Homo sapiens: one gene and its partners. The protein of the gene in region 4 purifies or fractionates together with the protein of the main gene of each other region. This does not show direct contact. Each region holds a gene or a part of one and is shown on either strand. Other genes may lie near its edges. The genes, in order: TRUB1, NAB1, NRCAM and MVK.

What was found.
Region 1: the proteins of MVK (region 4) and TRUB1 fractionate together in Homo sapiens (co-fractionation; one large-scale study listed by BioGRID). This does not show direct contact.
Region 2: the proteins of MVK (region 4) and NAB1 purify together in Homo sapiens (affinity purification with mass spectrometry; one large-scale study listed by BioGRID and IntAct). This does not show direct contact.
Region 3: the proteins of MVK (region 4) and NRCAM fractionate together in Homo sapiens (co-fractionation; one large-scale study listed by BioGRID). This does not show direct contact.

The regions. Positions count from the first base shown.
Region 1 is NC_000010.11:114,952,862-114,961,057, reverse strand, and holds part of TRUB1 (pseudouridylate synthase TRUB1), read right to left. Parts: intron 1,333-8,196; coding exon 1,251-1,332; intron 1-1,250. UniProt on the Homo sapiens protein: Pseudouridine synthase that catalyzes pseudouridylation of mRNAs and tRNAs. Mediates pseudouridylation of mRNAs with the consensus sequence 5'-GUUCNANNC-3', harboring a stem-loop structure. Constitutes the major pseudouridine synthase acting on mRNAs.
Region 2 is NC_000002.12:190,659,967-190,668,162, forward strand, and holds part of NAB1 (NGFI-A-binding protein 1), read left to right. Parts: coding exon 1-29; intron 30-8,196. UniProt on the Homo sapiens protein: Acts as a transcriptional repressor for zinc finger transcription factors EGR1 and EGR2.
Region 3 is NC_000007.14:108,184,718-108,192,913, forward strand, and holds part of NRCAM (neuronal cell adhesion molecule isoform A precursor), read right to left. Parts: intron 7,137-8,196; coding exon 7,012-7,136; intron 6,567-7,011; coding exon 6,537-6,566; intron 5,030-6,536; coding exon 4,928-5,029; intron 1-4,927. UniProt on the Homo sapiens protein: Cell adhesion protein that is required for normal responses to cell-cell contacts in brain and in the peripheral nervous system. Plays a role in neurite outgrowth in response to contactin binding.
Region 4 is NC_000012.12:109,590,794-109,595,861, forward strand, and holds part of MVK (mevalonate kinase), read left to right. Parts: coding exon 1-68; intron 69-447; coding exon 448-564; intron 565-4,234; coding exon 4,235-4,388; coding exon of another isoform or gene 4,389-4,399; intron 4,400-5,068. UniProt on the Homo sapiens protein: Catalyzes the phosphorylation of mevalonate to mevalonate 5-phosphate, a key step in isoprenoid and cholesterol biosynthesis.

The DNA of each region.
Region 1 (8,196 bases), on a different chromosome or scaffold from region 4:
GAAATTAAACCCAGATTTGTCTACTCTAGTGCGCCTTATATTTTTCACCACGTGGTACCCACACCCCCCAGCCTTAATTATATTACCCCAGGACTACTGTTCTGAATAATAATCATTCTCCTTATTATGGTTTGGTAAATGGAGTCAGAGATACAGGAGACTTAATTACATAAGTACTTATAAATACTTTAGTATCCTCTGGAAGTCTCTGACGTCCTCCTATTGCCCTATGCCTCCTTAATCTTAAAGTCTTCTGGTTGAAGGTTATAGCTGGCTTTCAGTTAAGTGAGGGTCTGCTATTATTTATTAATAATAATAATTCCAAGAATATTTCAACATCTGTTTTTGAAAAGCCTTGAAATCAATCAGTAATTTTTCTTTTCATTATGTTGCTTGATTAATTGAGCAAGATACTAAGCTACATATAAATGTTAACAGAAAAAATGAAGCTATTATGAACAATAAAAAGGTTGGCCTCACTACTGGGGCAATATGCAGTACGTAATAAGGATAATCAACACAAAAATATAAGGGGGCCAAATGCTGGCTTGCCTATGACTAAGAGATAACACTAAACAAAAAAACAGTCCACAAATTGGTGACATAATGATGCAGGTGAACTGACTTAGAAAACTGCAATTGCTGCATTATAAACAGCATAAGCACTGTGAGAGTTGCTAGGAGACCATTTAATTTATCTATTCTTCCTTACGGTAGTGAAAGAAGGGATAGTAGGAAACTTAAGGTGGGCCCCAGTGAGTTCTGGTTTACTTCCAGAGAAATAGCTTGCCCTCTGTCCTCTTTTTACATAGTCCGAAAGCACAAAAACATGACAAGTTTTAAAGTACTAAACCTGGTACATTTATTTCAACAGCTGACAGGTAATATATTTTTTTTTAATGGCAAGACAGATGAAATCTAACAGAGTATCTCTGCTTTGTTTCTCGTTTACTAGGGAAAATAACCTAAATCCTAGCCATACATGCTTTTGCAAGGAGGTTATTTGGAAGAATAATTCTGAACACTTAAAACATCACTATAGAAAAAGAGGCAATCACAATAAATCTTTATTCAAAAACTCCTATCAAGTAAGCAACAATGCGATAAACAATTTCCAATCTTCTTAGCCCAAAGAAACACACTGAGAATTAAAATGGCTGATAATATCAGAGATTTGTTTTAAAATGCTACCTGCACAGAAACTTTTCCTAAATGTTAGAAAAGAGGCCTACATTAGATGAGCTTCATACCGTAAGGTTTTTCTTCTGTTACCCTCCCCGTAGAATCTAGTGTATCAGTAGCTTTCCCCAGTTCTCCAATGGCAGTATATCTCTAGAGGAAGGGAAACAAGAGAGAAAATGGGCCGTGAGGCAAACAAAAACTGTTATGCATGTCTTGAAGTTTACACAGAATTTCACTACTACTACCAACCTGATACAAAATACAGGCTAAAACAACAGACTGCAATTGTTTTGTTTTTAATATGTGGAAAGCAATTGTGTAAACTGAAGAACATTAACAAACGTCTCACACTAGCCAATATGAGAAAGATAAACCTGATTTTATTGATAATTATGGCTTAATAATTATGACCATTATTATTGTAAGCAAATTTCTCAAACCACCTTTATACTGAGAAGTTTGTTTAAGGAAAATGTTCAAGTCTATCCATGAGTAGAGAGAATGGTACAATAGCCTTGACTCCATGGTCATCATAAGATTCAATAATCTTCCCACATATACAATTAAAATTAATTTTAAATAAGCCAACTTAGTACTTCTTACATGAAATACTAAGACAATTCTTAGTAACTAGGTCATGTATTAAACAAAAGCTAAATCTGTAGAAAAAGAGCAAAACCAGTATAGTCACAGAATTAGTGACTTAACTATTAAATGTGTTTTTTGTTTGTTTGTTTGTTTGAGATGGAGTTTTGCTCGCTGCCCAGGCTGCAGTGCAGTGGTGCGATCTCGGCTCACTGCAACCTCCGTCCCCCGGGTTCAAGCGATTCTCCTGCCTCACCCTGTGGAGTAGCTGGGATTACAGGCACCCGCCACCACGCCCGGCTAATTTTTTGTATTTTTAGTAGAGATGGGGTTTCACCATGTTGTCAGGCTGGTCTCGAACTTCTGACCTCAGGTGATCCACCCACCTCGGCCTCCCAAAGCCAAAGTGCTAGGATTACAGGCGTGAGCCACCACGCCCGGCCATGTGTTTTCTTAATAAAGATAAATTACTACTTAAGATCTCAGGAACAAGAATCGTTTCTAAGAACTGATCTTTATTCACAAGTGAAGAATTAGATCATTCTTAGTTACGTGAGGATTGTCTTATTTCTCATCTTAGGACACACTTGTAGTACGTACTCTTTTCACTTTGGTCAAACGCAAATTTTATTTGGGGCATCACATGAAGTAGTGAAAAAAGTGCAAGAACTTTATTTCCCACTGAAAATAATCTGTATTTATGTGAGCAATTTTATAAAAGAAAACTCAAAGTACTTTGCAGAAATATAAGCTTATTCATGACAAATTTATGAGGCTAGTGAAGGGACCCAAGACAAAAATGAGAAAAATATTAAAACTTCAAAACCTTGTAAGTATGCAGACATTTTATAACAGCTTAAGGCCCTTCGATGAAATCACCTTAATATTATCTAGCTCAGATTTTTTAAAAATAAATATAATACAGAAGGGAATATTCCAACGCATTTCAATTAATTTTTTTAAAGTTTCATAGGTATTGACAAAAATTAGTTTTTTGTAACTAAACACAGTCTCATCACCTGAGACACCCATTCCTGCTTCTATATTTTGGGACAATCAACCTCGACTAAGCATACCACAGGGGGAAGTATGAGAGAAGTACAACAATGGTAACAGCACAGGCTCAGGGTCAACTGGCTGGATTTGAATTCTGACTGTACCACAATTTGTAGACCAAGTTAGTCTTTCCGGCTGGAGCTTAATTTCCTTATCTTAAAATGTGGAAAACAATAATGCCTCATGAGAAGAAGCAAAGAGTTTAGAGTAACAATATCTAGCCCTGGTAAATAACAGATAATAATACCATCATCATCTTTATTTTCTAAGAAAGAAAATACAGAATGATTCGCAGTTAACAGTGGCTAGAGTTGACTCATCTGGTTACAGTCAGCTCCCATAAGGAAAGCAAAGCATCAAAATGCTTTATGATTTTTTTGTCTTTAGAGTCTGTTTAGTTGCATAAGAAAACCATGGTGCAATCTTGCAGACTATGCCTTGAATGTATCTGCAGTATTCTGCTCTGCAACGAGTTTGAACTAGGAACCTTAACATGTTTCCCAAGTATGCAATGCCCATTCTAGTCTCTGGACTCTTGGTGTTTTGTGCACCTGGGGCACATATGCCACTTCCCTGGCCTTGAACTCCCACTCTTCTCTAAGGATCAAACCTTATTCAGCTTTCAAAGCCACCCCTTAATCCATCCCAACTTCCATTTACCCACCTCCACAGCATGACTAAGAGTAGGTGCTCGATACAAATTCCATACATAGAAAGAAGGAAGGCATATATCAAATCCACAAATTCGATCATGTTTCTTAAGGACTATGAATGTCCAAAGTATTCTCCTAAGTGCTAGGGAAGGATACACAGATACATAAGATAGATTGCTCTCCCTCTAAGAGGTTACAGTGTAACAGGAAAACTTCAATAAACACAACTACTGCAGAGAGGACTGGATATAATGGCAACAACAGACATGTCTGGTTTATCTCACTGAGCTCTCATATCACACATATCACACATCTTAGCACATGATGACCTACAGAGATATTCACTGTTTTCCAAGTATACTTTATTGATCCTTACTTTCTGCAAGTATGAACTCTCAGCTAGAGTTTCCCATTGCTCATCTATTGTGTTCTTTCCTAAATAGAAACACAGTAGCAGCTTAATAAAAAGTTGCTGACAGAATGATACACATGCTAGAGAAGTGCCTATGTGTGCAATTCTTCACATTTCACCATAGTTTTGAATATCTAGATTTCATCTGCTAAGTCTCAACCCACTCCAGGGTCTGCAATTATATTGTATGTAGCTACGTGCTGGATTCTTTTTAGGGGAGACAATATCTAAATCAACATTCTCAAATCAAATCAAATCAAAATGTTCTCAAACATTTTGCTTTCAGAACTCCTATACACACTTAAAACTTATTGAGAAACCCTGGCACACATTTTTTAAAAACATGTTATATCTGCCTAGATTTATTGTATTAGAAATTAAAGCTGAAAAATGTTTAAAACTTCCATTAGCCATCAGAGCAATGATGTCATTGCACATCTAGTAATCTCTGAAAAACTCTACCATGTATTTGTGGGATTGCAAGTTAAAAAGGCAAAACTATGAAAATAGTTTCAATTTCAACAGACACCCTGAAAGAGTCTCAGGAGTCCTTAGACCACACCCTGCGAACCGATGATTGAAATCAGCTGTCTCCTAGCTTTCCCTTGTCCTGGCATCTAGTTATAATTATCCTTCAATTTTATTCAATTATCCACAAACCATTTAGAAAAATTCACCCACACAGTTAAGCCTTCAGCTGAAACAAAGCCTCACGACCAAAAAGATATTGGGATAGAAGAAAAAAGACATGGAGATACACACATTCAACCCTAACATTTTATCTTATGGAGTCTAAAATATTTCTTTTCACTGGCTTAAATTCTACGTAGAGTCTGTGCTTTGGAGTTGTTAATTCTCCAAGACGTATACCTGGGAACCGTGAATTCTACTACTGTATTCATTACAATGTAATTCTACTGCAACAAAAGAGAGGTCCTGAAGAACATTCCATTGACCTGTGTACTCTCTGGGACTCACAGTTTCTCACTGGTATTATTCTACTCTCTACTTTACTCATCGTCAAGCTCCCTAAACCCCACAGCAGGTATTAGCTAGACATCTCTAGCAGCAAATCAGCTTCTGTTCTGTTTAGGAGAAAGAAAAATGTTTCTACTACAGAAAGTATACACACAATCATTTCCTTGGATCTCAACTGAGGTGTGATTTTGAAAGCTTGTGATTTAAACCTTCACAAACAAAATAGGGATATTACTGAGGATGAGAAAGAACACTTTTTAAAAAACCTATCAAACCAAAAACATGTGGCTTTGAATGTCTTCATTAAGAAGGAACAGTCCTTTTTTATAGTTCATAAGTATAAGCCCTTTAAAATTTTCAATACAGTATTTATGAAATATATGAAAATTAATAGCGTATATAGAAAAGGTACAAACTGGACTAGCCTCTGGAGAAAACTGATTAGAAATGCTGAAATCTTCAAGAGTTGGCTAAGTTTCATAGGAGCATTACTCAAGCCACACTTTAGAGTTCTCATAACTGGTTAACCTAAAAATGTTACTGTGTTCTTGGGGAAAGTTACTATCCTTTGACCACACCAAGAAGGGGAAACTTCATTCACTCCAATGATGACACTTGTTTAACTACTGGAGGGGGATACAAAGTTGCCTTCTGAGGAGATGCTGGCTTTGCCTGCAGGTGCCACTATGGTTTACCTGCACAGAGATATGGAGGTACCTTTATATCTGGACATGCTAGTTAGATTATTCAGGTTTTCATAACCTTTCCATCTGGTTTCTAAAGCATTTATAAAGTAACCAACTTTGATCAACAATATAGAAAACTAATAAAGACAGCACTCCAAAACCTCATCTGTTTTCTTCTGTTCCTTCTGTCTGTTCCTTCAAAGTACGACATCTGCTATCCAGCTTTTGCTGAATGACTGGCTCAAAGAAAGTGTAATTTAGGGAAGATATAAGAGGGGCTATTTGCCCTCCTCTAGGTAAGCAACGTTTTATACTTAGATCAACTTAGGCCAAAGGAACACATCAGCCTAACCTCTCAGAATTTTACCTAAACTGTATTTTATGTAGCTCCATTTCTACATCTGTTGTAAAACTATTTTTGAAAATCACCATCTATCTGTCATTTAATATCTCTTATTGTCAGAAACTTCTTTCTGGCTTTAATGTCCAAGGAAAGTCTGTCTCTCCCTTAAAGAACTGGCATGCTTTCTCTTTCTGATGAGTGCAATATTTTGCCTACATCACCAGCAATCACAGATAGCCATGAAAAAAAAAAAAGAAATTAACTGTATTCAAGAGTTCCAACAGAACTTGCCTGAGTAAAATTAATTTCAGGTGTCTACAGAACATGTGGCTAGAAAGCTCCAACAGGCCTGGACCTCAAGAGAGAGACTTGGGGATAAGTAAAATACTTGGGAATAGTAATAACAGTATTTAATGAGCAATTTCCATACACAAGGCACTGTACAAAAAGTTCACATGCTTTTCACACACATTATACACATAATCCTAAATGATCAGGCACAGGGAAAAAAAAAAAGACTTGAGAAATATGATCACTGGCAGAACAAAGCTCACTCCAAGGCAGGAGAGGAAGACAATGAGGAACACAGAGCAGTGGCTCTTTTCTTAACTTTTACCCTGATCTGAATGGGAGGAAATGCAAGAAATGATTTGGGTGGTCTGATTAGTGTCTAGTCTTCACAGATGGAAGCAAAATAATGTGATGGCCTAAAGATTTTACTTAAAAGCCAGAATTTCATCTAGTAAGTGACAGTAGTTGTATGAAGTGGCACCATGTTGAAGAAGATTCTAAGGGTGTTTCTTGATTCAGCAAGAAGAAATGTTAGGCCATGTTCAATTAGCAATATCTCCAATTACGACTGGCTAGGGAGAGAAGGCTGTTCTGTAATATGGCTGTAACAAGAACACTGAATATTTGCCATCCTAGAACTAAATATTTCTACTCTTGACGTAACTCCATCCTACACATACCAGAAGTCTAATTTTTCTAGTTGCACTGTGATGCAAATAAAAATTCATCTGTCAAAATAGGAAGTGAAGAAAAAGTGGACATTAGATCTGGGCCAAGTTAGGGGGCTGCAGCCACATTTTTTTTTTTAATGAAATAGAAGGAAAAGTATCAAGAATACATCATACATAGGGTTAGAGTTGGATAAAGTTTGGATGTCTGCCCCCTCCAAATCTCATGTTGAAATATAATCCCCAGTGTTGGAGGTGGGGCATGGTGGGAATTGTCTGGGTTATGAGGGCGGATCCTGCATTAATTGCTTGGTGCCCTCCCTGCAATGAGTTCACGCGAGATCTGGCTGTTTAAAAGAGCCTGGCACCTCCGCCTCTCTCTCTGTCACTCCCTCTCTCACCATGCGACATGGCCACAAGTGTAAGCTTCCAGAGGCCCTCACCAGAAGCAGATACCAGTACCTTGTTTCTTGTACAGACTTCAGAACCATGAGCCAAATGAACCTCTTTTCTTTATAAATTACCCAGCCTCGACTACTCCTTTACAGCAACACAAACAGACTAACACAAAGTTGTTTGATAAAATTTTTCCTTTTCATAAATGTATGTATCTATATGGTCATTACATAAAATATGTTTCTTACTATGGGTCTTAGTCAAAAAAATTTTGAAAGTCACTAGATAAGATGATCTCTAAGATTCCTTCTAGTGCTTTTAAAAAAAGAAAAAATATTTATTAACAGTTTTTAACTACTTTTTATTAAAAAATAATCTTCAACATTAAACTCTTAATGATTTAGTTCTTTTAACAGGTACATAAAATTAAAAGGATAAGAAATATAAATAGCTAACAAGACAACGATGCCTATTTTTGAAATACCTAAGAACTAGGTTTCTGTAACAAGACGTGCCTGTGGTATTCTATTTATGTTACAGTCATTTTGAGGATCAGTGATTTCACTGTATGACATTCAGCTTTCGTAGCTGAACAGCAAATTGGCTGTTACAAAATTTATACCAGAGTCAATGATGTATTTACATTTTCAGTCATAATATTTCTGAAAATATGCCTGAAATTTACAAGTAAAATCTTTCAGTAATATATAGTGTGCTGTGTTTGTGGTTTGGGGGAGGAGGGGTGAACAACGAATATCTCAATGAACTCAACATATTTTATCTTGGTAAAAAAACCCAAACAAATTCCTTAACGTAAATATATCTTTTTTATTATTAACATAAAAGTGACTTGTTTATTGTATAGATTTTAGAAAATACCAAATAATGTGAAAAAAAAATCATCCATAATCCCATATTAAAGTAAACATTGTTCATCTTTGGGAGT
Region 2 (8,196 bases), on a different chromosome or scaffold from region 4:
AGGATGGGAAACATCTCACACTTCATGAGGTACAAAGCCCGCGTTGTTCCTTCTGTGTGTGTATGTGGCATGTTGCTAGTCGTTAGAGATAAATTTGGTAATAGTTTGCCACAAATGTGATACACTACCTGAAAGCAGTATTAAAAACATTGAGGTGTTAGCAACATGTAGCACTTTTGTGAAAATAGACCATATTTATTGTGTTCAGGGTATATTTGTATTGAACTTGAACATGTTTGAGCTTTGGAACTACAGTACGAGGTGACTTTTAGAAAAATGTCAGAATTTAAGCAGTGAAAGCGTAAAGTCTTTGCATTTGTAAGGCTGTTTGTTTTTTAATTAAAAAATAAAACTAGGTTTTAAATATAACTTTTAAAAAACATTTTTGTAGGCTTTTTTTAAAGAAAAAATTTCATAAAAATAGCAAGAACTTAAAGCAATTCTCAGCTAGCATAGAAAACAGTTAGATGAATGTTGGAAGAATTCTCACTTTGAACATTGTTTTGGTTTGATGTTTGGCATTAAACATTTTTATTTTATCTTTATAGTACTCTAGACATAGTCTGCTTAAGTTCATGTGTGTGTATATGTGTGTATAGATATAACATTTTGTCCATATAACATTATACTTCACGTGTGTGTATAAACTTTGGCATTTACTCCTTTTCTTGTCTATCTGGTCAACACATATCTTTAAAACTCAGCCAAGAATAAGCTTGTGTTTTCTGTAATCTTTTCCTTCAAGTAGAATGACCGTTCCTTTCCATTTTTATCCCTACATATACTTTTGTCACAATAACTTTAACTTCTTATTGTACTTATTTGTATACTGGTCTGTGCTTCACAGTATACTCTGGGTTTCTTCAAGGCAGAGATAATGTCTCCTTCATCTTTATATCCCCAGAGTCAAATGTACACAATAAGTGCTTGGAAAATAAATGCGTTTTCAAAAGTTAAAAAGACTATGTCATAGCTAATTTTTTTTTTTTTTTTGAGATGGGGGTCTCACTCTGTCACGCAAGCTAGAGTGCAGTGGGTGCAGCCTGGACCTCCAGGGTTCAAGCAGTCCTCCCTGCTCAGCCTCTTGAGTAGCTTGGACAACAGGTGTGTGCCACCACACCAAGTTAATTTTTTAAGTTTTTCATAGAGATGGGAGTTTCTCCATTGTTGCCCAGGCTGGTCTCAAGCTCCTGGGCTCAACTGATAGAACTGTCTTGTCCTCCCAAAGTGCTGGAATTACAGGTATGAGCCACTGTACCTAGCCTGATCTTTTTAAATAAATGATTTTAGACATGAATGTTGGAGCTTGAGATCAGATAATTGGTTAGCAGAATTACTTAAGTCATAGCCAGCCTGTGACTTGATCTATTTTGGGAGTATCCTTTGAACCAGTAGAGGAATCCACTAAAAGGGCTATATGGCTGTCATTAGTAGAAAAACAAAAGGCAAAATGTGTTGGCAATTTTAGTTTCATGCTTTAACCTAGTTTTCTTATAATTTTTAAAACATAGCAGATGAAATACAAAGTTGAGTCGAAATACATGTGTTTTTTATCAAAGTAAAAGTATTTCTAAAAGATTAACAAACCTAGTTAACCTGACTTAAAAAAAAATCATACCCTACTTTTAAAAAATGTAAAAAGAATTATTTTACACTTAGCTTTTGCTAAGGGGCTCTTTGCCTCTTTAGATAAGTAGGTACATATGATATTTAAGTGATGAGACCATGAATTTCACAAAATAAGGAAATACTCAAAATGAATGCCAGTAGGCTGAAATGTGGGGGTGGGGGCTTTGGAAGTTGTGGCTTGTGTTTTTGAAACTTAACTTAGGCCTTCTTGTTACTTGTACTCCAGTATGTGAATCTGGTCCAATAATATAGTTTAGGATAAATGTTTGTGAATCAGGAAGCTTTCTTAAAACTAGTAACTATCCAAGATCTTGGAAGAAATTACAGAATCCTGGGGGAATTGAAAGAAGGTACTATTAGGTATATCTTTTAGGTATTATGAGAATTTTGTATTTTTTCTCCTGATTATTTAAAATTAGCAGAAGTTTTTTTAGTTCTAAGTTCCTGAGATTAAAGAATGTTGCTAGTTTGTACTCAATTTCCACATAAGGAATACATGACTTACTCTTAATTCATTGTTGGCTTAATCTCACTGTTCTGAGGATTTTCTTCATATAAATTGTGTGGATACTGTTCTCTTAATCTTTCAAGACATAGAGCTGTATGTAGGTCACTGGTGGATGAAATTCAGGAAGCTATCTATACCTGTAAGTTTTTTTCAACTGTTCAAGTACATAAGATTATTTTTCTTGTAAGAAGAAGAAAATATTTGTTTATATATTTATAATAACATAATTTGTTTCCAAATGTACACCGTAAAGAATTATGGAATGACTTATTGTTAAGCCCCTCTTTTTTTTTTTTTTAAGCTAAAGAATCAGCAATAGTCCTACAGCCTGGCTAAGTACAGTCTGTTTTATAGGTGTCAGATTGTGAAGAGAGTGAGGGCTGAAGCTTAGAACCACACACCTTGCTGGTGTTCGGCAGGTGCCAAGGGACAAACCCAGAGGCGATATCAGAAAAAAGCCAGCAGGCAATGTTGCATCTATCATAAGGGGTGTTAATAGATAGTAGGTGGTAAACTAGGCAAGCAGTGTACCCCTAATGTTAAATCAGTGAATGGATGAGGAGAGAGCAACTAAAACTTGGGAACAGCAAGGCAATAGAGAATGTAGAAACTTGTAATACTCAGAAATGTAAGCAGGTAGATAATTTGGCATTACAGAATATTTGTCAGCAGATAGCAGCTTCCAGTCAAAGAGCTCTAGAAAGATAGGAAGGAGAAGAGGAGAATGTAGTCAGCGGGTAACTGTAAGCTGAGCAGAAGAAACTCTGCAGGAATTGGGGTGCTGAGCAGGTTACCAAGATAAGGACCCAGGCCTATAGAATAAACAGTGATGCCAAGCTTAGGTCAGTTTCCATTATAGTGCTGAGAAGTCAAGGCTGAGTGTTTCAGAGGAGGCCAGCAATTTCACCTTTGAGAGAGGAGGAATGCTGAATCTGAGAACCGCATAAACGTGGTCACATTATTAAGTTAGCTTGTTTTATTCTGAACTCTCAATCTCAGAATTCATAGATTTCAGCATCTAACACTTGAAATGCTGGACTTTTCCTTCTGATGATTTTTAAAAATGAATTATGGTAGTCTATTTCTTGAGTCAATTTTGGTAAGTTACATTTTTCTAAGAATATCCATTTCATCTGAGTTTTCAAACTTAGTGGCGTAAAGTTATTTATAGTTTTTTAAGACCTAATATTGACCTAATATTGATTGTACACTTATCTCTCCTTAGCTCCTGACCAACCTTGCCAAAGGTTTGCCAATTTTATTCTTTTTTAGAGATCTGCAAACTAGGGTCTGTGTGCCCAGTCTCACTCACCTCCTGTTTTTATAAATAAATTTTTATTGGCACACAGCTGGGCCTATTTATTTATGTACTGTTTGTGGCTGATTTTGAGCTACAATGGTGAGTTAAGTAGTTGTGACACAGGCTGTTTGGCCCGTAAAGCCTAAAATATTTACTCTCTGGCCTTTTACAGAAAAAGCTTGCCAACCTCTGATCTTTTTGAAGAAGCCACTCTGGGCTTAGTTGCTATTCTTGCTTGTGCTGTACACGTGTATATATTTGTCTCCTCTCTTAGTTATTTTATTGTTCTTATCTAACTTAATTTGGGTGCTTAGTTCATTAATTTTTAGTCATTCTTTTTCTAATATGAGCAATTAAAGTATAAATTTTCACTATGTATTGATTCAGTGTTATTCCCAAAGTTTTGTTATGAGGTTATTTTATTATTTTTCAATTTTAATTATTTTTATGATTTCTGACCATGTGTTATTTAAAAGTGTTTCTTTATTTCCAAATATGAGTAATTTTTTTTCCTTATTTTTCCTAATGATTTCTGACTTAATTACATTGAGGGCAAGAGAACATGGTTTGTGTGATGCCAACCCTTTAAAATTTGTTGAGAGTTTAGTTATGATTCATTTTGTGGTCTGTGTTTTTTACGTTTGGAAACGATATCTTAAGCAGTTGTTAGTAGAGTGTTCTATATGTGTCTGTTCTAACAAGCTTATTAATTCTGTCATTCAAATCTTATATTCTTAACTATTATTTTGTCTGCTTGCTCTGTCAGTAAAAAGAGTTGTGTACTAAAATTTTACTGATTGTAGTGTTGTCTGTTTCTCTTTGTATTACGCAGTAATCTTATTAACCTTTAATAATGTATTTTGCTTTAGAAAGCTATTTTCTTTAATGTTGATATAAATACATGAGCTCTCTTTTTGTTAGTCATTGCCTATTACATCTTTATATCTTTTTTTTTTTTGGAGACAGGGTTCACTTTGTCACCCTAGCTGGAATGCAGTGGTGAGATCACAGCTTACTGTATCCTCGACCTCCCAGGCTTAGGTGATTCTCCCACTCAGCCTCCTGGGTAGCTGGGACCACAGGCATGTGCCACCACACCTAGCTAATTTCTTTCTTTTCTTTTTTCCTTCCTTCCTTCCTTCCTTCCTTCCTTCCTTTCTTCCTCTCTTTCTTTCTTCTTTCCTTTTTTTTTTTTTTTTTTTTTTTTTTTTGTAGGGACAGGGTTTCCACGTTGCCCAGGCTGGTCTCAAACTCCTGGGCTCAAGCGATCTATCTGCTTCAGCCTCCCCAAGTGTTGGGATTACAGACGTGAGCCACCACACCTGGTCTATTCCTTATTATATCTTTATATCATCCTTTTATTTTCAGCCTTTCTGAATCCATGTTTTATATATATCTTTTATAAATACTGATCAGTTGGATTTTAAAGAACCCAGTCAGACATGCTTTGTTTTTTAACTGGAATATTTGGTCCATGTACATTTATTATATGACTAATATTTTGGATTTTTTTCCATTATTTTATTTGTATCTCCCCTCTAGCCCTGATATACTTTCTGTACAGATTTATCATCTGGGATTAGCTTCCTTCTATCGAAAGCTCTTTTAGGATTTTCTTAATGAAGGCCTACTGGTGGCAAACTCTGTCCTTCCCTACCTACTGGAAAATATCTTTATTTTGCCCTCATTTTTAATTACTATTTATTTGGGGTATTAAATTCTATAATGTTAGTGGTTTTCCCTTAGTAATTAAAGATACCTTTGTGTAAATTAGCGGGGCGTGGTGGCGGGCACCTGTAGTCCTAGCTACTCGGGAGGCTGAGGCAGGAGAATGGCGTGAACCTGGGAGGCGGAGCTTGCAGTGAGCCAAGATCATGCCACTGCACTCCAGCCTGGGCGACAGAGCAAGACTCCATCTCAAAAAAAAAAAAAAAGTTAGTGGTTATTCTGCTATTTATTGTGTACTTTTAAAATCTTGTTTCTGTCCAATTCTCCTCTCCTGATTCTCAAGTTTCGTGGTTATTTTTACTGTACTGCTTTTTAGTCGTATTTTCAAATCCCTTTGTTTCTTCAAATGAAGTCTTTGAGGGTCTGATTTTGCTGTCTGTTGTTTCTACTAGTGTTCACTTTTGTTGCCTTGTTTCTTTTGATGTTTTATGATTTATGTGAATTCATATTTCTTGGAACTTTAACTGTGAGAACATTTGGAGTCCCGGGAAGAAAGTGAATTCCCTAGAGGTTATTTGCTTTTTCTTTTTACTGGGCATCTGGGGACATTACAAATCTAAGACCCTATGAAAATAAATTCTCAGCCCACTTAGTGTGAATTATGGTTGATTGGGGGTTATGAAATCTTAAGAGAGTATCTTCTGTTCTCTCCCAGTCATTACTAGGGTTCAAGACAGATAATTTTCTTTGCATTCTCCTGGGGGTACAGACGTATTTCTAATTCAGCCTTACATTGGGTGTGTGTGGTGAGGTTTCAGCTTTATGGAGGAGGCATCTTAGACTCTTCAATTCTGATGGGCTGTGGGCTTTGCCTCTTTTTTCCTTCCCATTCTCCTCAACCCCATGAGGCCATGAAGATTGAAACTCAAGCTCATCAAGTTTAGCGACTGTCCCTAACTTAAACTTCTTTGAGGTACTGTACTCATTAATTTTGGCCTCAATGTCCTTATTCTCATCAGCTCATTGAGCATTTAAAAGATGATCCCCTCCCTATTTTATTTAACATTTTTAGTTTTTTTTTTCTGAGAGGGGCCAGTAATGGTACCTAGCCCTCCCAGTGCTGGAAATGAAAGTCCTGATTGCCTTTTGAGCCTCCCTATCACACAGTTGTTCACAGTGTTTTTGTGCCAACAGTACTTAAAGTCACAATCATTTAATTGTTGGAGATTATAATTTTAACAACCTGTAAAGAAAGTTTTTTTAGGAATCAGTAAACCACTCTTCTTAAGGATAAAGATAACTGTAGTAAGTCCAGTTTTTAAGTCCGGTTATAAAAGATAGCTAACTTTAAGAGGCCGGGCATGGTGGCTCACGCCTGTAATCCCAGCACTTTGGGAGGCCAAGGTGGGTGGATTGCTTGAGGTCAGGAGTTCGAGACCAGCCTGGCCAACATGATGAAACCCCGTCTGTACTAAAAATACAAAAAAATTGGCTGGGCATGGTGGCACATGCCTGTAGTCCCAGTAACTTGGGAGGCTGAGACAGGAGAATCGCTTGAACCCGGGGCGCTGAGGTTGCGCCACTGCATTCCAGCCTGGGAGACAGAGTGAGACTCCATCTCAAAAAAAAAAGAAAAAGGAAGCGAACTTTAAGAAATCTTTCACATAAAGATATGGTGGAATTTTGGTATTTTGGGCCACAAAAAGAGGAAATGGAGGAAATAAGTAAACCAGTAAGGGAGAATATCTTGTTACTTTATCCTTTTAACAAAATTAGAGTATTGGCATTCAGAAAAAGCTAACAGTGCTGCTGCAAGTGACGGGAATATTTTCATATTTTCCCAACTGCTTGGGAATATTTTCATTTTTCTTTTGTAATTATATCATGATAGTTATTGATGTGTTCATTATTAGCAGCTAGGGAGCATGAAATCTAGGTAACTCTGACAGAACACGTGTTTTTAAGGGAGAGGCTTCATGAATCAGCTTTTTATTACAACTTGGGGGTGAGCTAGAGTTACTTCTCCAGCCTCAGTTTTTTACCAGGTTCCCTGAGGGCCTGGAGTTTAGTCTACTTTTTTGGTTTGTGGGAGCCTGAATTCAGTGACAATGAATGCATTATGTTTATTTTTCTTGGTTTCTGGAAAGGTAAGAGAAGGAATACTAGAATATTGTTTTCAGTTTATGTTGAAAAGTTATTTTCTGTGTTTGTGCATAAGCTAGTACCTCTGAAATGTTGTCAGTTAAAACATCTTACTGAAAATCAGAGGTTTCCTTAGTAATTTAGATTTATTAATATGAAAAATAAATCGCTACATAAAAAGCTATTTGAGAATCCTCTTCAAGGTCATTTAGCTACTGCCATGCTGAAACTGATTTATTTTGAATATCATTATTTAAAGTATACATTTCACTTTTAACTCCAATAACATTGTGCCTTTCAAAGGCACTTAGGGGAGGAATTTATCTATTGATGACTCTTTAGGAGGAGTGGAGAAGGCTGAAAATAAATTCTTCCTTCAATTATGCTTTCATATTCAGCTATGGGTTTAAAATAGGAGACCTGGGTTTATTATTATAACTTGCTGTCAGTGGCCAAATTAATTGTCTCAGAACAAATTAATATAAATTACAGTTATAAATTTGGGGAGGAGGATGTTAAATATCTATATCATACCATGTACCATAACACATTCTAGATGGTTTAAATACTTAGGTGGGAAAAGTAAAACGATTAGACTAAATTATGGAACATTTATATATTATTAGAGTAGGAAGAGATTTTCTTTGCCTGTCACCCAAGGCATAGAAACTGTATGGCTAATGACAAACTTAAAAAAAAATCCCATTACATATGATGAAGAGTTAATGCTGTTAATAAAGAATTCCTGAAGTTCTAAGAACATGAAACATTGTAATGAGTCAAAGATGTAAGAAAAACCTTTAGTTTCATAGTCAAAGGGATGCAAATTACAACCAAATGCTGTTTTAGAAATATAAAATTGGTAAAGTTTTAAAAAGATAATAACTAGTGTTGGTCAAGATTGTAGGAAATGGACTCATCATGTAATTATTGACAGCATTATGATTTA
Region 3 (8,196 bases), on a different chromosome or scaffold from region 4:
CATGAATTATTTTACTTTCAAGAAAAATGCCATTAAAATATTTTGATTTCAGAGTTGTCATTATCCTCAACATATAAACACACATGATAACATTTTAGTGGAAAAATGGCATCTCACTGTATTTAATTTAATTTCTCCTATTACAAAAAAAATTTGACCACCTTTTCATATATTTAAACTTTTTAGGGATATATGGATTAATTCTAAACAGTTTTAGATTTTACCAAATCTGGTATTCTTTCTCTAGCATGCTGAATTTAGTTACTTAAAACTGTTTAGAATTAATCCATATATCCCTAAAAAGTTTAAATATATGAAAAGATGATCAAATTTTTTTCATAATAGGATAAATTAAATATAGTGAGTGCCATTTTCCACTAAACATATTGGCAATAATCAAAGGTTTAACACACTTCGTTGACTATGACACAAGGAATCAAGCATTCTCTGACTTTGTAGGAAGTGTAAGTTGGGACAACTTCTATATAAGACAGTTTAGAAAATCTGTCAATATTTAAGGCGCATACTAAATTTCACTTCTGGCAATTTATTTTGAATAAATGGGCTCACACAAATGGCTCAAACACACATGAGAAATAATTTACATTGTAGTATTATTTGCAATTGAAACAACCTAATTGCAAACAACCTAAACATCCATCAACAGGACACTGACTAAACAAATTACACTAGGTCCACACAATGGAATACTCTGAAGCTGTTAAAAATGACTGTCAGCCAAGTGCGGTGGCTCACACCTGTAATCTCAGCACTTTGGGAGACCCAGGTGGATGGAGTCCAGGAGTCTGAGACAACCTGGGCAACCTAGCAAAACCCCGTCTCTACAGAAAGTTAACTGGGTGTGGTGGCGTGCACCTATAGTTCCAGCTATGGGGGAGGCTGAGCTAGGAGGATCACCTGAGCCCAGAAAGTCAAGGCTGCAGTGAACCATGATCAAGCCACTGCACTCCAGCCTGGACAGAGTGAAACCCTGTCTCAAAAAAGAGAGAGAGAGAGGAAAAAAAAAAAAAAAGAATAGGGCTGTTCCATACGTACTGAAATGGAATGATTTCTAAAGTGTATTATTAAGTGAAACCAAGCAGCCAAGCAGGGTATAGAATCGTGTGTGCTGGATACTATGCTTGTGTAAATGTAAAACGAAATTACTACAACAAATAAACAGACATATTCACTTGCATATAAATGCATATTACCTCTCAGAGAATATAAACCTATAACATTGGTGTGGCCAGAGGAGCTGGGAGACAGGGGCGGGAGGAAGACATATTTTTCAGTGCATACCCTCTGCGTCCACTAAAATTCTGTGGTGTGTACACACTTTACCCTTGTAAAATAATAGGTATTTGGATATTCACTGATTGCCTACTATGTGCCAGGTACCATGATATGCACTATAAACACAAAGATGAACTAAAAATATTATATGTCTTGCAGTGGTTCAAAACTAAGTCCTTGGAGTTCTCCTTTCAATCCACATTCATCTTTGGATGATCTCCAGTCCTATAAATGGATGACTTTCATGTTTACATCTGTAGCCCAGACCTCTTCCCTGAACTGCAGACTCAGGAAGTCCAACTGTCTGCTCGACAATTCCACTTGGTTGTCCATGACAGCATCTCAAACTGGATAGTACCAAAACTAATTCTAATCTTCCTCTCCAATTGATAGTGACAGCCCAGGTCAAAATCTGGAATCCTTCTTATTTCCCTACTTCTTCCACACTCTCTGTAGTACAATGGCCTGTACCATTAAAATATATCCAAAATCTGACCATTTCTCAGCCTATTCCAGGCCACCCTCATCTCTTGTGTGAGTTATCACATAACCTCCTAACTCAGTAGTTCCCAAACTTTCTCGGTTCATGGTGTACTTAGTGTCTCCATAATTTATTTTTCATGGCTCCCTTAGGCCAAAAGAATTACCTAATGTTTTCAGGTATTAAGTAGCTAGGTTCATACATCTTTATATGTATTTATATCTTAAATAAATGTAAGCAATTTAATTTTAAACAATTTTAAATCTATTTATATCTTAACATTGTAAAGCTTCTCTTATATAAGTTCTCAAACCTTGTAAACAGATTGGACACCACCTTCCACATTTCCTATTCCCCACTGATTTCCATGTGGCACTTGCTTTTTATCACAGCAAACGCTTTGCAGAGATATAACATTATCACAAAATGACATGGGATATAAAGTTGAACCTGTAATCTGCCTCAAGCTAATTTCATGTGACGTTTGACAGATGTCACTGTGTTTTTTTAATATCAGAATTTAAAAGTTAAAACTTTAAAATTATTCCAAGGAAGGTACCCTGTGAATTCACTGAAGTACCACAGGGCACTTCAGTGCACAGTTTGGGAACCATGGTCTTACCCAGTCTGTCTGCTTCCCCTCTTGTTCTTCTATACACTATTTTCAATAGACAAGCCAGAGTTATTCATTCATCACTCCTCTGTTAAAACCCTCCAAGGGCTTTCCCATCTTCACAGTGGCCTACAGGACCTTGCACAATTCCCACTCTACACACCCACCACCGAACTCTTCAGCTCTTTGACCTTCTCTCCGCCCTCACTTTCCCTTTTTCATTTCACTGCAGCCACACTGGCATCCTAGCAGACATGCCCTGTCTTAGGGCCTTTGCTCTTTTCCTTTGCTCTTGCTGGAAAGTTCTTCCCCTAGACAACTGCATAGTGTGCTCACTGACCTCCCTCCCCTGTCTTGATTGACACATTCAAATGTTCTTTTAGTGTGGCCTTTCCTATTCACACTATTCACAATTATACCCCTAGCTCCACATGTCTTTCTGCTGATTTGTTTTTTGCATGCCCTAAACACATATAAACACAGTCATATGTATTAATAGATATATATGAGTTTGAGTCCTCTAGGGAGCAAAGGCTAAGACAGAATTAGAAGTGCAAGAGGTGGCCGGGCGCAGTGGCTCACGCCTGTAATCCCAGCACTTTGGGAGGCCGAGGCGGGTGGATCACGAGGTCGGGAGATTGAGACCATTCTGGCTAGTACGGCAAAACCCCATCTCTACTAAAAATACAAAAAAAAAAGTAGCCGGGTGTGGTGGCGGGCGCCTGTAGTCCCAGCTACTCGGGAAGCTGAGGCAGGAGAATGGCGTGAACCCGGGAGGCAGAGCTTGCAGTGAGCCGAGATCGCGCCACTGCACTCCAGCCTGGGCAACAAAGCGAGACTCCGTCTCAAAAAAAAAAGAAGTGCAAGAGGTCTATTTGGGAAAATGTCCATGGAAGAAAAAAGGGAGAGGAAGCAAGGAAGCCTGAAGGAGGGAAGACCTTCAGACCACAATGCTGGTCTGACATCTGTAACAGGAAGTGGGGGAGGGAAGGAGGAGTGAGTAGAAGAAGCCTCAGACTACAGTATAGTATAGCTCTGGGATAGTCTCAGCCAGGTCAACCAGGAGCCCAGAGTACAGTCTACACAGGAGGAGTTCTGCATTAGGCACGTGTGACTTCTGGGACCTTTGCTGTGCCCAGTCACTGGAGCACCCCAAGGAGCATGGCCTCACGTGAACTCTGCAGTGGAGCCTTAGAGAAGGAGAAGCAGATGGAGGCTGTGGGTTAACACTCCTTACAGCAGGTTCGCCCTTGAAGGTAGATCTGAGTCCTCTGTGTGTGTGTGTGTGTGTGTATATATACATATGTTTACATGCAGATATAATGAAATTATGCTTAATAATGTATTATTAATTTTATCTTATTTATATCCTCATCTAAAATATAAGCTCCATTACCACAGAGATTTTTGACTATTTTGTTTTAGAACAATGTCTGGCACACAGTAGGCACTCAAAAATATCTGTTGAATGAATGAGTAAATGAATGAAAGAGTAGAAATGCCTTGAAATCTAATGGTATTATTTTAATATAGGAAAAAAGAGTCTCCAAGCCATCTAACCAGCTAACTCTGGCTAATGTACCCAATGAGCTAGAAGACTGGGCCTGGATGAATTTGTGTTCTGATCAAGGACATTGAACACTCAAGTAGGGAAAAGAGCACCATTAAACAACACAAGATAGAGGAGGGGCTTTTGTTAAATTTTAGTGGAAATATTCTACTTTACCAGGAGGTGCAATAAATCAACACACCTATCATTTCAGAATCATCTTAGGTAGTCATCAGAAAGGAATTGTCTTCCTGCGGTATATGCCTGAAGGTAATAATGTATTTCAGGCATGTGACCTGATTGTGTCTGCCTCTTAAGTATCTCTTTGGTTTTACAATTCAACTTCGAAGCTTACCTATAGTCTAATTTTATTATGCTCTTCTAGTATCCTTATGACATTGTCCTTCCTTATCTTATTTCCTAGGCCCTAGGCTTGTGTCACCAACGTGAGAAGCTCACATTGTTGAATGGGCAACTTTGTAGCAGGGACTAATGGAAAGAAAGAGACCTAGGTTGGAAGTTAAGGTAGAACCTGTTATCTACGCCCAGTTCTGTTACCAACAGGGGGTTGAAAAGTTACTTTACTCATCAAGTATCAGTTTCCTAATAGGAAGACAGAGCTATTCAGCACTTGCTCCTCCTAACATTTTCTCCCAGAAGAAATGGGCAAAATAAACAACTAACTTAAGGTGTATCTTCCTACATGGTAGATATTTAAAGTGATTTTTATGGATCTTAAACACAAATGACAGTGTATTTGATTAGTCAACATCTTCAGCAATTAAGGGGTGTCCTATTCTAGAAGGTGTAACCAGGAATAGTTTCAGCTCTGAAGAGAGGAAGGACATAAATAAATATTTTTATTCTATCAGTAATGAAGCAGAGAATCCCAGTAAATACCTTTGTGAGGAAATTCAGCTGACTGTTACAAAGTGCTTCAAACATGGCCATTTAGTTGATCGGAAATAGAGCAAATAATACCACATACTTGTAATGGGGCTATTGTTGTCATCGCCTGGGGTCCATGACAGCTGAACACTTTTGTCAAGTTGATCTGTCAGTTCTAAGTCAAAGGGAGGATTTGGGACATCTGTAGACCAAACATACACACATCATGGTCACGCATCCATCTTTAAGAGGCTCTCCTTTACTCGTGATACTATTCACAGAGGGGACATCTTAAAGACACAGCACACTTGATAGTCAATGAGCATGCAACTGAAAGGAAATGTGCACAGCTGAGGCTGCTGGGAACACACGAACACACACAAGATAACCCATCAATGAGTTCTGCTCACTTGTTTTTCAAAGGAAACGAAAGCATTTGTAACCAAACCCAGTGAAGCAGACACATGTGGTTCATCAGCACTCTCAGCGTTTCTTCTCATAAACATGAATGGGCACAAACATGAAAAATAATAAGCTTAATTTCTAATACATGGGAAATAGAGAAAGCAACTGCTGAAAAAAGAAATACAGGCAAATAAAAGGTGCTGTTTAAAGAAAATTCAAATGTTCTTTCTAAAAAAAATGCTGAATAACAGATTTTGGGGCTCTGAAAGAATATTTATATTTGCGAAAGAATGCTGAAATAGATGCTATGGAGGTAGCCCTCAGCATGCATAAGTGTGTTTACTCCCAGAGGACAACAGTGTATAGACAGACACATGTCGAGATGAAGGTGTCCTAGAAGCATGTCTGCCTCTTCTAATGGTGCTTCTGAGATCCAGAGAGTTACTGTTCCCCCCAGGCCTTTATTTGACCTTGCTCCTAGGAGTATCTCTGGCTCTTAGGGGACCAGAGACCATACAAATATATGTGCTTTTTTTTCTTATCAGTCATAAAGCAGTAAATGTCTACAAAGCACAGGTTTTATATTGGATAATTAGACACAATATTAATAATATTGTGCAAAATCAGCTGAGATGCCAAAAATTGATTTTTGTATTGACGTACTGAATAAAGATGAAGGTTCTCTAAATAAAAAGATTTCTGGAAATGATTTCTGACTTATTTTCCAGATTCTAAAAAGCCACACAACATAAATGTGCCCCTCCTTTTGGTCTTTCTTGAGTGATTTGTCTTTTGTTAACACATGGTGAGTCGGTTTTCTCTGATATAAAAGTTAAATGTTGTTCTAAACATCTATTTTTCCCCATATACATTTCTTGAAAATGGAATCCCAAAACAAGATTTTTCCCAAACAACTTTTAATAAATTGAGATGAAAGCCTAATTTGTAGAATGATATTAGAAATAGCTTTTTCATTCTGTAAAATGTGGATGATGGCTTTTGAAAAAGCACTATGCTACTTTAAAAGGAAATTGCATCAAAGAGGGACTTTTATCAAACGAAGTGATTTTATAATAGCACATGAACTATTTAGAAAGAACTGGCAACGAACTTGGTGAAAAATCTGTGGTTATGATGAAGAAATGATTCATTGTCAGTAAATGGGTGACACAACATAACAACTGACAGAGACCTTTTCCTTAAGAAACACAATTATGTGACATAGAAAAGAAAGTTATGAATACTTTCTGCAAATGTGAAATTGTTTGACAGAAAACAGAGAAAGAAGACTCATATTAGTTTACCGTAAACGGGAGCTGGAGTTGGAGTAGGAGCTAGAAAGGACATTAATATAAAGGATTTTAATCAAAATTAGTAATGGAAAGATACAAGATAGCACAAGATGACAAAGACTGTACATTATTCAAGGTTATAAAATTAAGCCCTATGCTTAGCTGTGAGACACAGCATTGATAAACATGCAGTAACAATTTAGGAAAAAAAACCTTCAATTTTAGATACAAGTAGATCATTTCTCCTTATTTTATTACAAAAAAGGTTACTAATGTGCATATCCACCATTTCACCCAGTGCTGCTACACAGTCTATTTATACTGAAATTATTGCCTCCAAGGCATCTTTCAAAGAAGAAAAACATGGGTATGAACTCACCCATGCATATTAACAAGCAAATATTTGATATTTATAATTTTTATCTTATTTTTTCTTTTCAACCAAATGCAGGGAAGCCAGTTGTGCTATTTTTGTTTTCGTTCTTACCAACAACGCTAAGCACAGCGCTGGCGGAGACGCTGTCCAGAGTGGTGTTGGCCACACACGTGTAGGTCCCGCTGTCATCGTCACTGACATCAGCTACCACTAGATGATCCTTGTCAACAGTGAACCTGTGGATAGAATGCATTCAGAGCAGCTGAAATGGACATGCAGCCGTACCCTATAATTGCTTCACTGGCAGGAAAAAAACTGTAAATTTGATAAAGGAGAAAGATGGTAAACACTTTCAAAAGTTAGAGCAAAATACATATCACTTTAAGAATGATTAAAGTTGAAAAACAATGAGAATCAATTAGAATATTGGGTTAGAAGGGATATGTCCTCTGGCACAGTATTTTTCAACCAGGCCTCTAGAGCACGGGTCCCCAAACCCTGGGCCAAGAACTGGGTACTGTCCTGTTAGGAACTGGGCTGCAGAGGGGACCGCTGCTCTAGAGGGTGTGGTAGGAGTTTCCTTAGGCCCCAGGGGAATGGGGCGAGTGAAGCTGAGCTCCGCCTCCTGTCAGATTAGTGGCAGCATTAGATTCTCACAGGAAGGTGAACCCTATTGTGAACTGTGCAAGTGAGAGATCTAGATCTAGACTGTGCTCTCCTATGACAATCTAATGCCTGATGATCTGTCACTGTATATATTACATGTAATAATATATATATGTATATACATATTACAACATAATAATAATAGAAATAAAGTGCACAGTAAATGTAATGTGCTTGAATCATCCTGAAGCCATTGTGCCCCCACCCTGTCCGTGGAAAAACTGTCTTCCATGAAACCAGTCCCTGGTGCCAAAAAGGTTGGGGACCACTGCTCTAGAGGGAGAGGAAGGAGCTTCCTTAAGTTCCCAGGGGAAGGAGGCGAAGAATAGTTCCAGCATTAGCCTTACTAAAGGGCTTTACTAAGGCTTTTGCTGCCAAGAAACATTGGAAAACCACTCATTCAGTTCAATTTCTATCAAAGTATATATTTTAAATACTTTATTATTTACTGCAGAAAATCATGTCATTTTCTTACATGTATAAACTCTCATAGGAGAAATTAAATGCAAAGAATAATAATTTGCTTTATCACTAGAAACAGGAAGATTTAGATGAACAATCTCTCTAAGACTTTTCTAGAGGGAACTTGTGGGCATGAAAAATTGCTCAGTAGATCAAAAAATTAATGTA
Region 4 (5,068 bases):
TGACCAACACCAAAGTCCCTCGCAATACCAGGGCCCTTGTGGCTGGCGTCAGAAACAGGCTGCTCAAGGTGACTCTTGTTCCCTTCTTGGGCAGGTTTCAGGAAGGCCAGGACACAATTACATCTGGATTTTCGAGGTCTCCCTCTGGCTGATGGGTTATAGGGGGTGTGGTGGGTGGTGGGGGCCCTTAGGGAGGTGGTTTTGGCAGAAAAGAAGGTACCGTCCGTGCCCGTAGCCTGGCCAGGAAAATGACAGTGGTCGGGCTCGTTAGACACACTGACTTTGCAGCTGGGAAGGCAAAAAAACAGGCTCAGAAGAGAGGTGGTTTCCCCAGAGGATGGGCACGGGCTGTGTGAACACCTCCTCCCTCCACCCCACTGCTGGGGCAGCTGTCCTGCATCTGCCTGCCCCCAGGCCTCACCAGCCGTTCCTTCTTTTTTTCTCCAGTTCCCAGAGATCGTGGCCCCCCTCCTGACCTCAATAGATGCCATCTCCCTGGAGTGTGAGCGCGTGCTGGGAGAGATGGGGGAAGCCCCAGCCCCGGAGCAGTACCTCGTGCTGGAAGTAAGAGCCTGTCTGCAGGAACCGGGGTTACTGAGTCCACACCACTGTCCAAGGCAGTGGCTCTGCAATCTGGCTGTGCTCAGAATCCCCCGGAAGCTAGCACATAGAGGTCAGGACCTGCCTCTGGCCTATGCTCTCAGCTGGGCCCAGGTCTGTGCGTGCCATATAAGCGTATCTTATTTTCAGGCCTCTTCCTGGGTGATTCCGAGTAATTGGGAGAGTGCAAGGGAGGCCAGGGCCTGGCTCGTGCTAAGTGCAATGGAAACAGGTTTGGGTCACTTCTAAGGAGCTCTGGCCCACGTAGGTAGATGGGGATGTGGCTGATGCAGAGTGCTCTGTCGGTGCAGGGGTGACTTCTTGGTCACTCTCCTGCTATTGCTAACTTCATGGGTGCATTCAACAACTACTTGTCAACTGCCTGCTTTGGGTCAGACAGATCCTAACATTGTTTTTTCATCATTGCAACCCCATCCACTGCCATTTGCATAATTCTAGTGTAGAGGTTGTGACCTGGTACTTTGGGTGTGATCAGGCCTGTGTGTGAATCCCAGCTCCACTTCTGCTGGACGTGTGGCCTCGCTAGAGTGTCTTAAGAATGCTCAGATTAGACGGGCGCAGTGGCTCACCTGTAGTATTAGCACTTTGGGAGGCCAAGGCAGGTGGATTGCTTGAGTCCAGGAGTTCGAGACCAGGCTGGGCAATGTGGTGAAACTCTGTCTCTACAAAAAATACAAAAGTTAGCCAGACATGACGGTACATATCGGTAGTCCCAGCTACTCGAGAGGCTGAGGCAGGAGGATCACTTGAGCCCAGGAGGTCAAGTTTGTAGCCTGGGCGACAGAATGAGACCTTGTCTCACACACACACAAAAAATGCTTGGAGTCTCATGGGTGACACGCAAGCACAATGTCTGGTGTGCTATGAGCTTAGGGAACCAAAGAGCCCAGGCTCCCCCTGGACACAGTCCACCTGGCCTGGTGAATATGGGCTGTTAGCCATCTGGCTGCCCTTGCAGAATGAGAGGATCGGGTGGCCCCTAGCTGCCGTGGCTGTGCAGCAGCCGTCAGTGAAGGGACAGGAGAGGGGCGTGCGGTCTCCATGTCACCACAGTCCCTCCCCGCGCCCCGCACTCTGTAGTCATTGCCTGGTGTCTCCCGGTCCCCCGTGGGCATTCGAGTCTGTAGCCCCTGTGCTGAGTGGAAGCTGCCACTAAAGCAAGCCTTTTACAAATGATTCTTTTCACTTGATCCTCACACCCACCTCCCTGTGAAGTAGGTGTCTTATCCCTATTTTACAGATGTAAAAACTGAGGCCTGAAGAGAGACTTCCCCCAAGGTTATCCAGCTAGTGAGTGGCCGAGCCAGGGGTCCAGCCGACGGACTGGTCTGTCCCTTTATTCAACAGATCTGTCATGAGCACCTACTATGTGCCAGGGCAGCGCCTCCATCGAATTCCTGTGTTTCGGCCCTCATTCCCTCAGTCTTTGTCTTCCTAGCTCTCAATTCCTTCCACATAGAAAGGAGGGAACACAGTCCCCCCGAGTAGGAAATCAATAATGATAGAATACTGCCTAAAATACACCCTGTCGAGTCCCTGGAGAATGCCACAGAACAGCACGTTGATTATACATTGTGTGTATTTTTGGCTGTGGCAGCCGCTGAAATGTGCAGCTCAGCTCCTGGACAGCTTTGCACTCAAACCAGCGAACTGTTCTCCTGTGTCACAACCTGTCATCTGATCCTTGACAGATTTTGGATCAGAATGTGACAGGTGTCTGGAACCTGCCTCGGCAACGTGACACCTGGTGCTCAGGCGCAGAGAGCGGCCCCCAGAAGTCTTCTCTCACATCCAGCCCATCAGGCTGGTGAGAGGCACCCGGGGCTGCCACCAGGCCATCATGCCTGTCTGCTCATTTGTCAAAAATGGTGAGCTTGGCGCAGAGCGAGGTATGAGGCAGGCTGTTGGGGAGGGCCACTCCAACCCTGCCTGACCGGCCATCCCCATGCGGGAGAGCTAGGTGGGCCTCCGCAGAGATGCCTCAGTGATTGGCAACTCCTGGTATACAGGCAATCCAGGTGCCCCGGAACAGAGCTTCACACGGAAGTGAGGAATGCCAGGGGGTGCTCTCAGAGGCAGGGTAGACAGGAGCTTCATGTCAGGCAGACCCGCCTTCCAGTGCCAGCTTGGTACCTACTAGCTCAGTGATCGTGGGCAAGTCACTTCTTCTCTGAGCCTCTGTTTCCCCTTTTGTAAAGTGGGGATGATGCTAACGTACCCATAAAAATACTAACAGCACATATCTCGTGCCAGGCATTGAACAGAAAACTCACCTTGTTTCGTCTCAGGGCAAAGAAGCAGATTTTTTTTTTTTTTTTTTTTTTGAGACAGAGTCATCTTGCTCTGTCGCCCAGGCTGGAGTGCAGTGGCACAATCTTGGCTCATTGCATCCTCCCAGGTTCAAATGATCCTCGTGCCGCAGCCTCCTGAGTAGCTGGGATTACAGGCACACGCCAACATACGTGGCTGATTTTTGTATATTTAGTAGAGATGGGGTTTCGCCATGTTGGCCAGGCTGGTCTCAAACTCCTGACCTCAAGTGATCCACCCGCCTCGACCTCCCAAAGTGCTGGGATTAAAGACGTGAGCCACCACACCCTGCTGAGGCAGATACTCTTATGACCCCGGTTTACAAGCAGGAGACAGACCCAGTGCAGAAGACCTTGCTCAAGGACACACGACCAAAAAGGGGCAGAGCAGAGACTCGAACACAGGCCTACTTGACTCCAAATCCCATGGTTTTTACTTCCTGATGGCTGGGACCGTGGCTGGGCACCCATCCTTAGAGCCCCAGCACGTTGTGGGTGTTTGGTAAATGAAATCTAACTACTGGGTGCCTGGGCAGTGGAAGCTGTGAAGTTTTATTTTTTCATCCACATGCATCTTGTTGGATCCTTAAAGAGCAGGAAGTTTATCCTGCATAACTGAAGAAACCTAGACAAACAGCTGTTTCCCTGCTTATGGCCTTGCTGGAGTTACACCTAGTTCTTATTCTGAAACCAGTCCCCAAGGCAGCTGTAGGGAGGCATGTTATTTGAAACTTTTTCTCTTGCAAATGGCAGAAATCCATTTCAACCAGACTTTTGTAGAAAGGGAATGTATTGGCTCTCAACTGAGAAGACCAGAGGTAAATGGCTTCAGGTATAGCTCAATCCAGGGGCTGAAACAATGTGTCGGGAATCTGTCCATCTGCCACGTAATATCTGATCATGTGGCAAGATAGGTCATCTTGGCGACTTGTGTCTGAAGTTAATTATTTTAGCAGCTCTAGTGGGAAGGGGCAGAGGAAACCCTGGGAGGGCTGTGATTGGCCCAGCTTGGACCACATGCCCATCCCTGATCAGTCACCAGTGCCAGAGGCTTCTGTGACCAGCCCTAGGATATGTGCTCACTGCTGTGGTGAAGGTATGCTCAGCTCTACCCAAGCTCCGTGAGAAATGCTGCAGGGCAGAAGGATTCTTTTACAAGTGGAGAGGGCCAGGGTGCCAGGTAGGCAAAGCCGTTGGCTGTCTCCAGCCAACAACTGTCAGATGGACGAGGCAGGCTCAGGGGTGGGCATAGGACCTTGGCCTCAGGCAGGCCAAGTGGGAACAGATGGAACCTTCTCCCCTAGGAGCTCATTGACATGAACCAGCACCATCTGAATGCCCTCGGCGTGGGCCACGCCTCTCTGGACCAGCTCTGCCAGGTGACCAGGGCCCGCGGACTTCACAGCAAGCTGACTGGCGCAGGCGGTGGTGGCTGTGGCATCACACTCCTCAAGCCAGGTATCCCGGGGGTAGGTGGGCCAGGCTGCCAGCCTGGGCTCCTAAGAGGGGTCCACCTGGAGAATTCCCTTGAAAGGAAAAAGAGACCTGGAAACAGGTCTCAGCTCCGCTGTGTGGCCTTGGGCAAGTTAGTTAACCTCTGGTCTTTGCTTCCTCATTGGTAAAATAAGGATGAGAGTATCTAGCTTGCAAGATCGTTGCCCAGATTCAAGCAGGAAAGTGCACCTAGAGAGCCTGGTGCAGGGCTGGGCTGTGGCTGGGGCTCCTGTCATCGGGGCTGTCCGCACAAGCTTGGGAAGTAACCAGGGCATTGTCACTCTCCACGTCTGCCTAACCTTGCCCCACTTGTACCCTTGATGTGGTCAGGATGCGGTTGATTTTGCTACAAAACGAAAGGGTTTCCTTCCCGTTGGTTTGGGGAAAGAGGAAGACCGAGTAATGGGCTTGGCTTAGGAAGCTCCCTGGTGCCTGGGGGCCTGGCAAGGGGCTTCTGCTAGTGTTTAACCACCTGACACCTACCTCTGCCCTCAGGCTCGCTCCTGGCCTACAGTAGGCACTAACCGGTCCCACCTGCCTCCATTTCCCTCTGTGCTCCTTGTCCCCTCCTTCCTTCCTTCTTTCTCTTTCTGTCTTTATCTCCTCCTCTCTGTTCTTCATCCTTCCTTTCCCCTCTGCTTTGC